Linked DNA regions of Homo sapiens: region 2 is linked to region 1. Evidence: fine-mapped expression QTL. A gene starts in region 1. The other region holds a variant in brackets. All regions are shown on one strand. Distances are between the middles of the regions. Region 1 holds the start of NUP205 (nucleoporin 205). Region 2 overlaps NUP205 (nucleoporin 205).

Evidence for each region.
Region 2: its variant is fine-mapped to the expression of NUP205 in whole blood (TOPMed, PIP above 0.99). The same link has a PIP of 0.9 or more in blood mononuclear cells.

The regions. Positions count from the first base shown.
Region 1 is chr7:135,553,186-135,561,530 of GRCh38, forward strand. NUP205 (nucleoporin 205) reads left to right here and starts at 4,732. Exons shown (of 43, transcript NM_015135.3): 1 at 4,732-4,787. The coding sequence starts at 4,760. RefSeq lists enhancers at 4,573-4,702, 5,083-5,132, 5,193-5,252, 5,323-5,442.
Region 2 is chr7:135,577,915-135,586,259 of GRCh38, forward strand. It overlaps NUP205 (nucleoporin 205), which reads left to right. Exons shown (of 43, transcript NM_015135.3): 6 at 1-110; 7 at 837-1,001; 8 at 6,918-7,093. Among named protein-coding and RNA genes, the nearest start is that of NUP205, 24 kb to the left of the region's middle. The variant C/T (reference allele first, on the strand shown) is at 5,154.

The DNA of each region.
Region 1 (8,345 bases):
CTTTCTAGGAGTATATCAGTTATTTCTTGGGCATAACAAATCACAAAACGGTGACTTAAAACAATAGCCATTTACTTGCTCACAATTCTACAATCTGGTCTGGACTCACACATTTACAGTCAGTTGGTGGATCAACTAGTACTGAGGATCCAAAATAGCCTCACTAATGTTCAACATTTCAGCTAGGGTCTGGAATGGCTAAGGGTTGGCTAGGCCTCTCTCCTCATGGTCTTTCGTCCTCAAAAAGACAAGCTCGAGTTTCCTTACATGGGCAAAAGAGCAAAAAGGAAGTAACAAGGTCTCTTAAATCCTGGGCTTGGAAGTGCCCAACATCACTTCCTCTGCATTCTCCTGGTCCAAGCAAGTCAGAAGGCCAACCCAGATTCAATGTGGCAGATGATTACACAATGGCTTCAATTCAGGGACCTGTGATTCACTGAGGGCCTTTTAATAACAATCTACCACAAGAAGCTAACAGTTTTAGTGAGGAGACAATTGTCATAGCACATTGGGACGTAATAAAGATGGGAAAAAGTGCAATAGGTCTGCAGGCAAAGAAACACCCGAATTTGATGGGGCAGGGGATCAAGGACAGCATCATGAAGGCAGCATTAACACAGGCCCTGAGACTTGGAGAGCAGATCATGTTTGGAGGTTAACTTGGTGGGTGGTCACAGGTGAATAAGGAAGGGAAGGAAGGGCAGTCCAGGAGGACAGAATAGCAGGTGCAAAGACATTGATACATGGCAAAAGAAAGCATGTTGTATTTGGGGATAACAAATAGTTCAGAATGATTAGAGTAAAGGGCTCTTGAGGAAGAGTGTGGAAGGCTGAAGAACGAGGCTGAACCATATCAGGAAGTGTCATGAGTGCCTTGCTAAGAAGATTTTAAATGATACTCTTAGTAATAACTCTTAGTAATAGAAGATCATTGAGAAATTTTGATCAGAACAACCACATCATGTGTTTTTTTTTTTTTTTTTTTTTTTTTTTTTGAGACAGAATCTCACTCTGTCACCCAGGCTGGAGTGCAGTGGTGCGGTCTCGGCTCACTGCTATCTCCGCCTCCCTGGTTGACACCATTCTCCTGCCTCAGCCTCCTGAGTAGCTGGGACTACAGGTGCCCTCTACCATACCTGGCTAATTTTTTGTATTTTTAGTAGAGATGGGGTTTCACCGTGTTAGCCAGGATGGTCTCAATCTCCTGACCTCGTGATCTGCCCGCCTCGGCCTCCCAAAGTGCTGGGATTACAGGTGTGAGGCACTGCGCCTGGCCATATTTTTTTTTCCTTTTTTTTGAGACAGAGTTTCACTCTTCTTGCCCAGGGTGGAGTGCAATGGCGTGATCTTGGCTCACCGCAACCTCTGCCTCCCGGGTTCAAGCAATTCTCCTGCCTCAGCCTCCTGAGTAGCTGGCATTATAGGCATGTGCCACCACGCCCAGCTAATTTTGTATTTTTAGTAGAGACGGGGTTTCTCCATGTTGGTCAGGCTGGTCTCGAACTCCTGACCTCAGGTGATCTGCCTGTCTTGGCCTCCCAAAGTGCTAGGATTACAGGCGTGAGCCACCGTGTCCGGTCATGTTTTTTTGTATTTAAAAATCACTTTCAGGCTGGGCACAGTGACTCATGCCTGTAATTTCAGTGTTTTGGGAAGCCGAGGTTAAGAGTTCGAGACCAGCCTGGCTAACATGGCAAACCCCCGCCCCCCGCCATGTACTAAAAATACAAAAATTAGCCGGGTGTGGTGAAATGCCCCTGTAATCCCAGCTACTCAGGAGGCTGAGGCACAAGAATCGCTTGAACCCGGGAGGTGGAGGCTGCAGTGAGCCAAGATTGCACCACTGCACTCCAGCGACAGAGTGAAACTGTGTCTTGAAATAAATTAATAAAATAAAATAAAAAATAAAAATCACCTTAGGAGTCCATGAAAGGAAGATCAGATGGAAATAAGAAAGACAAATGAGAAGGCTATTGCAAAATACCAAGTTTAAGAAGATGAGACTTGAACAATGGCATAGAAAGCAGAGAAGAGGAAAAGGGTTCCAGAAATATTTGTGAGGTAGAATGAACAGGATTTGACAATTGAAGGAAGAATACAGAAAGAATCCCAGGTTTCCGATTTTGGCAACTGGGTGGGGATACAGGTGGCAGAGTTTTAGGGGAAAAGTGATCATTTACGTTTCAGACATGTTGGTTTTGAAACGCCTGTGTGGCAATCAATACAGATATGAAGTAGAGAGTTGGTTCTACAAATATGAAGCTCAAGAGAGAGGACTGGACTAGAGATACAAACACAGAATTCATCAGCAAGCAGGTGGTAGTAAGAAACCATAAGATGTCCCACAGAAAGCATGTAGAATGAAAAGGACAGAAACTAGAGATGACTATAGGGGAAGAGCTAGATTTAGTGGGTAGAAGAGGAAGAGAAGTCCACGTAAAACACTAAAAAAGAACTGGAAAGAGGAGGAAAACCAGTATCATTGGTGCCCCAGTAGCCACAGGATAATATAATTTTGTTTCTTTCTTTTTCTTTTCTTTTTCTTTTTTTTTTTTTGAGGCAGAGTTTTTACTCTGTTACCCAGGCTGGAGTGCAATGGTGCGATCTCGGCTCACTGCAACCTCTGCCTCTGGGGTTCAAGCGATTCTCCTGCCTTAGTCTCCCAAGTAGCTGGGATTACAGGAGTCCTGTCACCACGCCCAGCTAATTTTGTATTTTTAGTAGAGACAAGGTTTCACCATGTTGGCCAGGCTGGTCTCGAACTCTTGACCTCAGGTGATTCTCCCACCTCAGCGTCCCATAGTGCTAGGATTACCGGCGTGCGCCACTGCACCCGGCCTATAACTATCATAATTCAGAAAAGTGCCCATGGAATTTGATGACTGATAACTGGTAAACATACCAAGCGCAGTTTTAGAGGGGCTTATGATGGCAATATCCCAATTGCTACGAATTGAAGAAGCCTGTGAGAGAATGCTTGTAAAGTGTAATGACAGGTGAAGAGGAGTTGCTGGAATTTAAAGAGTTACTTTATAGAAAGCAAAGTTATCTACTGAGAGGGAAGCGTGTGGGCTTAAAAAGTGCATGTGGAGAGGGAAAGGCTTGTAATAGCTGTGCTGAGAGAGAAATCTTTGAATGCCGCTTCCTGTCAAGTTCCTGCTCAGTATTCTTCTCAGTTTCATGATAAACTTCTTGAAAAATTCCTTTGCGTTTACTTTCTCTCTTCCCCACTTCACTCCTTAAAACCACTTTAATCGTAGTTTGGCATTTGTCTCTATATATCAATGACTTTTAGAAAAAATCACCAGTGATTTTTGTGTTTCAAACCTAATGTACATTGTGTCACTTGATATTATTTGTTCAAAAGAATAAATGTTCTGTTCTGGATATTCTTTTTTTTTTTAAATGGAGTCTCACTCACTCTGTTGCCTAGGCTGGAGTGCAGTGGTATGATCTCAGCTCACTGCAACCTCCACCTCCCGGGTTCAAGGGATTCTCCTGCCTCAGCCTTCCGAACAGCTGGGGTTACAGGTGCGTGCCGCCATGCCTGGCTAATTTTTGTATTTTTAGTAGAGACGGGGTTTCACCTTCCTGGCCAGGCTGGTCTCAAACACTTGACCTTAAGTGATCGCCTGCCTTGGCCTCCCAAAGTGCTGGGATTACAGGCATAAGCCACTGCGCCCTGCCAGTTCTGGATATTCTTAACATACTCTATGCTTTTGTCTAAATTATTTGATTCTGATTTCCAACAGTGAAATGGGAATGATGGAGAGTTAATACAATGAGATTGTAAGGCACATGGAGCGTCTCTGACATAAATAGTTATAATCATATCATTTTCCCAATAGAATGGTTTGCAGGGATTAAATGAGATAATGGCTATAAAATTTTTCTTAATACATAGCTGTAAATAGCAATGATTATTTACATTTTAGTTTGAAAATCAGCAAACTAAAATTTAACAGCTGAAGAAAGAGTTCAGCTACTTTGGGTGCTCAGGTAGAAAAATACTTGGTGATTATGAAACGATATGTCTGGAATCTGTTTCAAACTAATCGGGGGCGGGGGGTGGGGAGGGGAGGGTGTTGGGGTGGTAAGGGTGGGTTGGGGCTGCCGTGGTGGGAAATTGGCCACGTTATTGATGCTGAGTGTTTGCTATTCTAATTTTGTATCCGTTTGAAAATTTTATAATTAAAAATTATGATTTGTTTCGCTCTACGCAACTATGTTGACAGAATATATTTGGTAAACTGAAATGTCACGGAAACTTAGTTTGTAACCGGTCAGTGGCTTTTTGAGGTGTAGACACTTCATACCTTACTTCACTCCCCACTGTAAGGAAGATTTAACTTGAAGCGGAGATAATGATTTGAATTTACGGCTTTTATAATGTCATAAATGGGCGTCATTTTAATAACTACTCTCAGAATATCTTTTTCTATTCCACTTTACTTTTTCCTCTCCACTTAACCAACTCATCATTAGAAACTACAAGTCCCAGGATGCACTACACGATGAACGTCGGATCGAGGACCTCGTGTCTCTGAAGTGGTTGCCCTCGCCTTATTTGAATGGGAATAATCCCAATGAAAATTGATGTTTGTGACCCAGAGCAGATTCTGGAGCCTTTTGTACGCCTGGGACGGCCCAGCGTGGAGGGGACAGTGTGGTGCCTTTTTGTTCAGGCTTCGCTCAGGTCAGCCTCACCCTTTCCCGGGGCCTCCATGCGGCAGAAGGGCTCTGTTAGTGCGCCTCTAAGATGGCGACGCCTTTGGCGGTAAATTCGGGTAAGTGTGGCCAGACAGAAAGACGATTGAGCTGAGCGATAACCAGGTCTTCATGGAGAGACGAGACCGTGAGGTTTCTCGGAGTCTAGGACCCCACTTATGTGCGGTGCCTGCTTTTCCCTAATTCTGGGCCTAGAGTCCCACCCCTCCCCAGTTTGAATGGCGCGCGTCGGTGCTGCGGCTCCAGCCCTCGAGTTGGGGTTTGAGATTCCAGGCAGTGAGGCTTGGGCCGCTGGACCCAGGTGTGTAATCTCTCACAGCCCAGGGCTGAGTCTGGTCCCCCTCACCCCCAAGTTTCACTGTGCGTCTGTGGTCCCGATTTCGCTGGAATACGCATCAGGTCTTCCACAGTGAAGCCAGAGGACCCGAGATATTTTCCAGCCATGAGCAGAGGCTGAAAGTAGGCGTCGGAGTTCCTTATAGGGTGGGAGATCTTGCAGGCAGCGAATACTCCCTATTATGAAGTCGGCCATCTGAAAGGTGGTCAGGAAGAGGGTGGCGGGGCTTCAGCAGACGTCTTCTAACCCTGCGGATGTGGTTAGGCCCTGGATGTTCTTGTACCTTTGGAGCTGTAGATTTTCGGGGTGGAATTGAATCTAGAAGGTAGTAAAGGAACTCTGGAAGATTTGGGGTGGATCCTCTTTCGGTGATTCTCAATTCGGGCCGTACCGCCCTCCAGTGGTGTTTGAATGAGTGAGTGCATTTTGATTGTCATATTTCCTGGGGTACACTGCTGTCGCATAGTAGGCGGGGCAAGGATGCAGAAAGTCCTTCATGGTCAGAGCAGTCCGGAAAAATAATTTGGTGCCTAGAATGTTAATGCCTCGATTGAGATGCTCTGAAGTTCGCGGGCAAGATTAAGAGTATATCTGTGTGGTAAATGCTTGTGAGAATCTCACTTAAAAGGACTCTTTTTTAAAGTATTGGTTCTATTTTCCACAGGACTGATATTCTTGAAAAGTTGTCTAAATCTGTTTTGTAAATCAAATCATTTCAGAAAAGCTATGATAAATTATAATGAAGGCTATGTTTACTGAACACATACTATATCCCAGCATTGCACTTATTATCGTGCTTATCTCATTCAGTTCCCGTTTATACACCTTTGGAGTAGTTACTGTTACATACTCCGTTTTACAGATTTGGAAATAGAGGCTTCAAATAGTTACGTAATGTCCCCAGAGTTAAACATCTAATGATCTAAGTCAGTCTTAGGTGCTTAAACTACTTAGTGCTACTGCTTAAGCACAACCTAATTCATTTTATGATATTAGACGTATATATTAGAAGGTTAGTAATGAAGTTACATGCTTAATATTGCGGTCCTTCCTTCCCAATTAGATATGCTTAACGTGTGGTTGTATATAATACATTTCTCTATTTTATTTTATTTTTTAATTTTTCTTTTTGAGATGGAGTCTTGCTCTGTCTCCCAGGCGGGAGTGCAGTGATGCGATCCGCGATCCTGGCTCGCTGCAACCTCTGCCTCCCAGGTTGAAGCAATTCTCCTGCCTCAGCCTCCTGAGTAGCTGGGATTACAGGCATGTGCCACCACGCTGGGCTAATTTTTGTATTTTTAGTAGAGGTGGGGTTTCTCCATGTTGGCTAGGCTGATCTCGAACTGCTGTCCTCAAGCGATCTTTCTGCCTCGGCCTCCCAAAGTGGTAGGTTTACAGGTGTGAGCCAGTACGCAAGGTATACACATTTATTTTCCTTTTTTTTTTTTTTCTTTTTTTGAGATGGAGTCTCATCCTGTCCACCCAGGCTGGAGTGCAGTGGCGTGATCTCGGCTCACTGCAGCCTCCACCTCCTGGGTTGGAGCAACTCTCCTGCCTCAGCCTCTGAAGTAACTGGGATTACAGGCGCCCGCCACCATGCTTGGCTAGCCTGGCTAATTTTTTTTTGAGATGGAGTCTCACTCTGTTGCCCGGGCTGGAGTGCAGTGGCACGATCTTGGCTCACTGCAACGTCCGCCTCCTGGGTTCAAGCGATTCCCCTGCCTCAGCCTCCCGAGGGGCTGGGATTACAGGCGCCCGCCACTACACCCAGCTAATTTTTTGTATTTGTAGTAGAGAAGGGGTTTCACCATATTGGCCAGGCTGGTCTCGAGCTCCTGACCCCGTGATTCACTCCCTTCAGCCTCCCAAAGTGCTGGGATTACAGGTGTGAGCCACTGCGCCTGGCCAATTTTTTTTGTATTTTTAGTAGAGACGGGGTTTCACCATGTTGGCCAGACTGGTCTCAAACTCCTGACCTCAGGTGATCCGCCTACCTCGGCATCCCAAAGTGCTGGGATTACAGGCGTGAGCCACTGTGCCTGGCCTATATACATTCCTTTAGTACATACTCGCCCTAAGCTATTATAATTATTAAACAAATCATTGGAGGGAAAAGGAGTTGCCAACAGCAGCAAAGAGTGTACATTGTATAATAAAGCCTTGTGTCAGGAGTGTTTAATTGGCAACATAGGAAACATTTTTAAAAGCCAAGAGTCAGGAGCTGGTTTTTTAAAAAACTAAACGTCTTAGGGAAGGAACTCTTTTTCCATCAAGGAATGAATGTTGGGTTGAGTGGGTAAAGGAAATGTGTCATATACATGCAATATGCATAATACATATACATGCATATACATAACATAACGTATACATGCATATATATAGTATCCTTATGCAGCCTTAAAAAGGAAGGAAATCCTGTCACATAAAACAACGTGGATGAAACTTGAGGACATACTAAGTGAAATAAGCCAGTCACAAGACACAAATACTACATGATTCCACTTATATGAGGTATCTGAAGTAGTCATACTCATAGAAACAGAAAGTAGAATGGTGGTTGCCAGGGGCTGGGAAAGGGGAAAGTGGGGAGTTGTTTAGGGGGCATAGAGTTTCTGTTTTGCAAGATGAAAAAAGCTGTGAAGATCTGTTGCACAATGTGAATACACTGAACACTGCTGAACTGTACACTTAAAATTTGTTGAGATTGCATTCTATGTTATGTGCTTCCTTTAAATTACAGTTTTAAAAAATCAAACATCTTGGAGTTGTAAGGAAAAAATACAGAGATTGTAGAGTTCTAAGACCTATGGTTGGCCAGGTGTGGTGGCTTATGCCTGTAATCCCAGCACTTTGGGAGGCTGAAGTGGGCAGATCACCTGAAGTCAGGAGTTCGAGACCAGCCTGGCCAACATGGTGAAACCCTGTCTCTACAAAAATACAAAAATTAGCCTGGCATGATGGCAGGTGTCTGTAATCCCAGCTACTCGGGAGGCTGAGGCAGGAGAATTGCTTGAACCCAGGAGGAGGAGGTTGCAGTGAGCCGAGATCATACCACTGCACTCCAGCCTAGGCAACAGAGCGAGACTCTGTCTTAAAAACAAACAAACAAAAAACAAACAAAAAAACCTATGCTTGTATTTCAGCTGTATAACTTAACTAGTCTTGTGACCTGTATCAACCTGGCTGAGTACACTCACAGACTTGTGAATAAGCAACTATTAACACTGCTTGGCAGTCCTTCTGTGATAGTCTGGTCACCTCGTCCATTCACAGCAGTGAC
Region 2 (8,345 bases), 25 kb after region 1:
GACAGTTGAGGCTAATGGCTCACTGGATGCAGTGAATCTGGCTCTTCTTATGGCGCTTCTATACTGTTTTGATATCAGTTTTATAGAGCAAAGCACAGAGGAACGAGATGGTATTGAGTTTTATACATTTTCCTACATTAAAAAAATCAGATTTAAAATTGTGGGGATAACATTTAAAAAGGGTGATATTTTAGCTACTAAAATAGTCTGCTCTGTTCCTGTGTTTGCAGTCCGTTCATATTTGAATATTTATATATAAGATCACATTTAAAAAACAGCTGCAGTCCTGTTAATTATTTCTGTTTTTTGGGGGGATTTGGAATGGAAAGTATTAAAGCATATATTATACATGTTCATGATTGCACATGCCTAATTTACTTAATTGCTTGTTTCTTTACCATTCATTTACATTTTCAAACTTTTTATTAAAACATTCTGAGACAGTGACTGTCATTTCAGTAATGTAATCTTTGATCTGTGTTTTCTGTGAAGTAAATAAAATTTTTGTGATCTTTAGATAGCATGATTTCTATTTTAGAATTTATGTGCAGAAAAAATGAGTGTCTAACTTTTTTCTTGTTTATTTGTAGTACACTTATAAAAATGACTGAAAATAGTGAAATTGAAATTTAGGATTATTGTCATTTTCTTTTTTTGTTTTTAGTATGTGTACAATCAACAGTAGTGTACCTTTTGGGATGTAGAAATTAATGTTAATTGGTCATTATTCTTCTGTGAGAATGCTCAGATTTTCTGACTTTTGGATATTATTCCTGTGTATCAGAAGTGAGAATTTATCTGGTGATCGGTAAAGTGGTCTATTTTTGTGTTTTCAGATATGATTCATCAACTTCCACTGTTGACAGAAAAACAGTACATTGCAACAATTCACTCTCGTCTTCAGGACTCACAGCTTTGGAAACTGCCTGGGCTCCAAGCCACTGTTAGACTTGCCTGGGCGCTGGCATTGAGGGGAATATCCCAGCTACCTGATGTGACAGGTGAATTGATTGTAGGTAATTTTGTTATGAGAAACAGCATGTTAGCACTTAATGACATTTTTGGAAGGAGTATTATCTTTGACATACATAAGCATAAGCATAGGAAGATATCCAGAGTTGTATTAAATGAAACCTTTAGTGTAGTAGTGAAATACAGACTTTTTTCTCCTTGTCTCTCAAAAATATCATATGAAATACTATTTCCCATTCTTGGAGCCACTGACAATGCTCTTTTACCTTCAGGGTATGAGTTTAAAATTTGGAATGACAGTGTCACATTAATTTTTTTTTTTTTTGAGATGGAGTTTTGCTCTTGTTGCCCAGGCTGGAGTGCAATGGCACAGTCTCGGCTCACTGCAACCTCTGCCCCCCGGGTTCAAGCGATTCTCCTGCCTCAGCCTCCCAAGTAGCTGGGATTACAGGCATGCGCCACCACACCTGGCTAATTGTGTATTTTTAGTAGAAATGGGGTTTCTCCATGTTGGTCAGGCTGGTCTTGAACTCCCGACCTCAGGTGATCCGACTGCCTTGGCCTCCCAAAGTGCTGGGATTGCAACACGTGAGCCACCCCGTCCGGCCTTAAATGTTTTTTAAAATTAAAATATACTATTCCTTTTATTTTTATATATTTTACTTCTTGATTTGTTCACAAACTAGTTTTTCACATTGTGTCAAATTAAAAACAGTTATTTTTCCATACAGTGTATTAAAAAGGAGATATTTGGATCAGTCAAGAACAGATGTGGAATCCCGACTTTTCTTTTTTGTGGCCCAGGCTGGAGTGCAGTGGCTCGATCCCGGCTCACTGCAACCTCCACCTACTGGGTTCAAGTGATTCTCCTGCCTCAGCTTCTTAAGTAATTGGACTACAGGCACACGCCACCACACCCGGCTAATCTTTTGTATTTTTAGTAGAAACAGGGTTTCACCATGTTGGCTGGGCTGGTCTCGAACTCCTGAGCTCAGGTGATCCACTTGCTTTGGCCTCCCAGAGTGTTGGGTTTACAGGTGTGAGCCACCGCGCCTGACCAGAATACTGACTTTTAACAACCTGTTAACTCACTGTAGCATATATTATTCTGCTATTTACATTTACATTATTTAATTGTCATATTAGTAGGGGTTTATTCTAACAGAATGAGAACCATACATGGAACACGAAGCCCAAAGAATTGTCTTTTTATGGTAAATCTAGAAAGGCTTTATTCAAGTTTACAATTTATGTCAGTTTTCTAATCCTAAAGTATCAACAGATTCTAGTATCTTATCAATCGTGTAATTCCAGAACATTTTGTTTTCACTAGTGTCATGCTGTTCCCAAGGTGTTTGCAGAAAGCTTTTTTTGTGTTAGGAGTCTTTCTTTGGCCAGTTAATTTCTATCTGTCTGTCATCTATATATCTAAATGCTGATAGCGAATTAGACTTTTACATTCCCGTACAAATTCTGTTTCTCACCTGTACGTACCCTCATCATTTATAAGTCTTATTTCACTACTTTTCTGACATAAAGTTACCCTTTAACCTTTGAAGTGGCTATGTGATAGTTAATATCTTCTTTTTTTATTTTGGAGATGGAGTCTCGTTCTGTTGCCCAGACTGGAATGCAGTGGCATGATCTCAGGTCACTGCAACCTCTGCCTCCTGGGTTCAAGCAATTCTGCCTCAGCCTCCGGAGTACCTGGGACTATAGTCGCACGCCGCCACACCCAGCTAAGTTTTTGTATTTTAGTAGAGACAGGGTTTCACCGGGTTGCCTAGGCTGGTCTCGAACTCCGGAGCTCAGGCAATCTGCCTGCCTTGGCCTCCCAAAGTGCTGGGATTACAGGCGCGAGCCACCATGCCCAGGTGTGATAGTTAATATATTAACTATATAATATAGTTATACATAGATAGTTATTATAATATTATGTAATATGGTCACAATCTTATGCTATAATTGCCCATACCACTGCACTAGTTTTGAAAGGTTTAATAGAATATGCTATAGTTTGCTGTAGAATAATAGTAAAAATAGGTTAGGAATCACAGCCCTAGTTTCAAGTCCCAGATCTTTGGCTACTTAATCTCTTTGATTTTATATGCTCATATCCTTTTATAAGCTTTAATAGTTAGGGGTATTATAATTAGAATTTTTAAACTATAAAAATTTTTCTGTTAATTTGCATTTTAAAAATTGTTAGAAAAAATGACTAGCTTGTGTTATTTTGCAGAAATGGTCACTTCTTGAAATAATCCAGACAAGTTTTAACGAAGATCTCCAATTTGAAAAATTGGTTTCTGTTCTCTTCATAGACTTCTGAAACTTTTATCAAATGTTTTTATTATATTATTCTATAAAAGGCATGAAGCCAGGTGCAGTGCCTCATGCCTATAATCCCAGCATTTTGGGAGGCCAAGGTGGGAGGATTGCTTGAGCCCAGGAGTTCATGACAAACCTGGGCAATGTAGTGATACCTCATCTCTTCAAAAAATTAAAAATTAGCCCAGTGTGGTGACATGCCCTTGGCTGTAGTCCCAGCTACGCAGGAGGCTGAGGCAGGAGGATCACTTGAGCCCAGGAGAGAGGCTGTAGTGAGCTGAAATTGCTCCACTGCACTCCAGCCTGGGTGACAGAGTGAGATCACATCTCAAAAAAAATTAAAAAAACAAGCATCGGCCGGGTGTGGTGACTCACGCCTGTAATCCCAGCACTTTGGGAGGATGAGGCAGGTGGATCGCTTGAGGTCAGGAGTTCAAGACCAGACTGGCGAACGTGGTAAAAGCCCATCTCCACTAAAAACACAAAAAATTAGCCAAGCATGGTGGCGCGTGCCTGTAATCCCAGCTGCTTGGGAGACTGAGGCAGGAGAATTGCTTGAACCTAGTGGGCAGAGGTTGCAGTGAGCTGAGATCATGCCACTGCACTTTAGCCTGGGTGACAGAGTGAAACTCTGTTTCCAAAAAAAAAAAATCAACAAAAAAACCAAGCATTTTTGTAATTTCACTAAGCTTTACAGAATTTTAGCATACTGTTTTTAGGCATTGAAACTCAATTTATATTAAGACAATGATGCCTTATTGCCTAAATGGTCTTCAAGAAGTAATTTTTGGCTGGGCATAGTGGCTCATGCCTGTAATGTCAGTGCTTTGGGAGGCTGAGGTAGTCAGATCACTTGATGTCAGGAGTTCAAGACCAGCCTGGCCAACAGGGCGAAACCTTGACTCTGCTAAAAATACAAAAATTAACTGGGTGTGGTGGCACATGCTTGTCATCCTACCTTCTCAGGAGGCTGAGGCTGGAGGATGGCTGAAACTGGGAGGCAGAAGTTGCAGTGAGTCAAGATCGCACCACTGCACTCCAGCCTGGGCAGCAGAGTAAGACTCTGTTTCAAAAAAAATAAAAGACGTAATCTTTGAGTTGATTCTCTTTTAATTCTGGTGTTTTTGAATTCAAGTAAAGGTTTGAAATAATTTGTTACTGTTACTGAAAATATTTAATAATTAGTAATTTTAGTAATTGTTATTACTAGTCATACCAAAGAATTAAGACAATATTTTATTCTCAAGGATTTTGTATAATATGGGTAGATAAGCACGTTTTTGTTTGTTTGAGATAGTGGCTTCCCTGTTGCCCAGGCTGGAGTGCAGTGGTGTGACCATGGCTCAGTGGCCTCAACCTCCAGGGCTCACATGATCCTTCCACTTCAGCCTCCCAAGTAGGTGGGACCACAGCTAATTCTTTGATTTTTTTGTAGAGATGAGGTCTCACTATGTTGCCTAGGCTGGTCTTGAACTCCTGGGCTCAAGCAATCCTCCTGTCTTGGCTAAGTGTTGGGATTACAGGCATGAGCCACCACACCTGGCTGATAATGCAGACTTTATTTCAAAATACGAAACAAAACATTAAAAAAACAGGCCAGGCATGGCGACTCATGCCTGTAATCCCAACACTTGGGGAGGCCGAGGCGGGTGGATCATGAGGTCAAGAGATCAAGACCATCCTGGCCAACATGGTGAGACCCCATCTCTACTAAAAATACAAAAAATTAGCCAGGCGTGGTGGTGCGTGCCTATAGTCCCAGCTACTTGGGAGGCGGAGACAGGAGAATCTCTTGAACCTGGGAGGCGGAGGTTGCAGTGAGTTGAGATCGTGCCACTGCACTCCAGTCTCGG[C/T]GACAGAGCGAGACTCCATCTCGAAATAAATAATAAATAAATAATAAAAATGAAATACTACAAATCATATGTTTTCCTCTGTTTGAGACTATCTTGGCTTTTATCTGTTCCTGGCCCTTTTCAAGGCAATGAAAATGTACTTACGGTAACAGACTATGTATTTGGTTTGTATGACAGTCAAACAGAATAAGCTGTGTAGTAGTCTTTTTCAAAGCCAGATTGCCACACAATTACCTAGTAATTTTATATTCAAAATTTAAGAGCAGTAATCAGCAATATGTTTCTTGATGGAAAGATACACCATAACCTATGACATACTCTTAATAGAAAGTTGAATGTAAGTCAGATTAAGTTACTCTAGATCAAGCCACTGCACCCAGCTGAGGAATTAGTTTTAAAGATGTGATAATGGCCAGGCGCAGTGACTCACGCCTGTAATCCCAGCACTTTGGGAGGCCGAGATGGGAGGATCACTTGAGGTCAGTAGTTCAAGACCAGCCTGGCCAACATGTTGAAACCCTGTCTCTACTAAAAATACAAAAATTAGCCAGGTGTGTTGGCGCACACCTATAATCCCAGCTACTTGGGTGGCTGAGGCCTGAGAATTGCTTGAACTGGGAGGGAGAGGTTGCAGTGAGCTGAGATTGTACCACTGCACTCCAGTCTGGGTGACAGAGCGAGACCCTGTCTCAAAAAATAAAATAAAATAAAGATACGATAATGGTGTTGTGTGTGAGTATGTAGTGAATTTTTACTTTTGCTTTCTTTCTTTCTTTCTTTTTTTTTTTTTTTTGAGACGGAGTTTTGCTCGTTTTCCAGGCTGGCGTGCAATGGCGTGATCGTGGCTTACCGCAACCTCCGCCTTCTGGGTTCAAGCGATTCTCCTGCCTCAGCCTCCCCAGTAGCTGGGATTACAGGCATGCGCTACCACACCCGGCTAATTTTTTGTATTTTTAGTAGAGATGAGGTTTCTCCATACTCCCGACCTCAGGTGATCCTCCCAAAGTGCTGGGATTACAGGCATGAGCCACCCTGCCCGGCCTTGTTTCTTAAGTATATTTTTGAGTTGTACACTGCAAATACTTACTGGTAAAATGTTAAATTGGAATTTGCTTTAATGAGATATGTATGAGTGGAGAGGGGGAAGATATAGATGAGGTAAGATTGTCCATAAGTTGGTAGTATTGAAACAGGTGATGGGTATGTAGAGGTTTATTATACTTATTTTTAGATATATATTGGATATTTTCCAAATAAAATATAAAAAAATTACAGTTAGACAAGTTTATATTCAAGTTAAAATTTAGTTTTTAAATTTTAGCTACTTGGTTACCAAATTAGCACAGTTACTTACCTATTCATGTTCAGGTTTTGGTCTTGGATTGAAGACTTTTCAGATGACCCATGAGATTTCATTGGGATTAAAGTCTTAACATCATTTTAATATGTGAATGTTTGGATGATAGCTCCCTGACTACATCAGTGTTGCATCACACATCTCTAAAATAATTTTCATTAGTTATGTTATTATTTCAAAGAGTATGTATTTTTCTAATACACATTCAGAGTATATTGTTATTTGGGGTTTGTGAGTTCTTTAGGGTTTATGAGTCAATTACAGTTATATATAGTCTCATTTTGTGCATAGCACATGCTAGAAGGCTGGGAAGATGTCTGAACCATCAGCAGAGTATTATGAGATATAATTACAATCTGGGTTAATGACTTTTCCTCCATGTACTGTGTTTTAAAATCTGTTTCTAGCTCTGGCAGAATTCACAGAGGCAGATGAAGCAATGGCAGAACTCGCAATTGCTGACAACGTTTTCCTGTTCCTCATGGAATCTGTAGTGGTATCAGAATACTTTTATCAGGAAGAATTTTATATTCGCAGAGTCCATAATCTCATCACAGATTTCCTTGCACTTATGCCAATGAAGGTAAGTGTAATAATGTAGGATGAGTAAATAGTAGAAGAATTTTATAAAATAATTTAAAACTGATTAACCAGCTTTATGTTTTGGAAACTAATAAAAATTTTTAATACAGACTAAAATTTGCCAGTAGCTGTATTACATCTTGTGAATCAGTTTGTGACTCATGAAATAAGTCATGAGTCTCTACAAGATATGAGAACATACCTTGTAGAATTTCAGTTGTATTAAATTTGTTGAGGTTTGTTTTATGGCTCAGAATATGGCCTGTCTTGGTAAATGTTCTATGTACACCTGAAGGGAAGACATATTTTGCTGTTGTTCTATGGAAATAAGTCCTCTTAACTGGGGATAAGTCAGTAGAAAGAAATATTTGACATAGTGAATGGTTTATAAATGAGAAAGTAATTAAATGAAAATGCTTCTGTGGGTAGAAAATTACTAACCTCATGCTGCCCTAAGGATTAGTGCTAAGGTTGCTTTATTTAATATTTTTATACATGATTTGGAAGAGGCACAGTGGAAAAATTGCATTTTATAGATAATTGTTTAGATTTTTTTTTTTTTTGAGATGGAGTCTTGCTCTATTGCGCCCAGGCTGGAGTGCAGTGGTGTGATCTTGGCTCACTGCAATCTCCGCCTCCTGGGTAAGTGATTCTCCTGCCACAGTCTCCCAAGTAGCTGGGATTACAGGCGCCCGCCACCACACCTGGGTAGTTTTTTGTATTTTTATTAGAATGGGGTTTCACCATATTGGCCAGGCTGGTCTTGAACAGGTGATCTGCCCACCTCGGCCTCCCAAAATGCTGGGATTGCAGGTGTGAACCACCATGCCTGGCCCGATTGTTTAGATTCTGAATTGCAGTGTATAAAAGGGCTTCAGCATGGATACAGGTAAAATAATGAATTTAAGAAACCGTAACACAAAGGCTGCTTTTGAATAGATAGCTTGAGCTGTAACTGTCATCTGAAAAGCGATTCTTAGAGCTATTTCAAACAGTTCCTTATAGTATATGCTCTGTGTGCTGTTTTGTGCCAAAGAAGCCATCAAATGTTGGCGGGAAGTAAATGAGGGAGAAAAACGTCTTTTTTTGTGTTTATATTATAAAACCACCTATTTCAAATGTACAGTTTTTAAAAGCACCCTGAAAGGTCTACACTTGTAATATATTGTGCAGTTTTGGTACCATACCTCCTGAAAAGTATAAATTGATTATCATAAATTTGCCCTTAGGATTCTTGTATTATTTTTATTTTT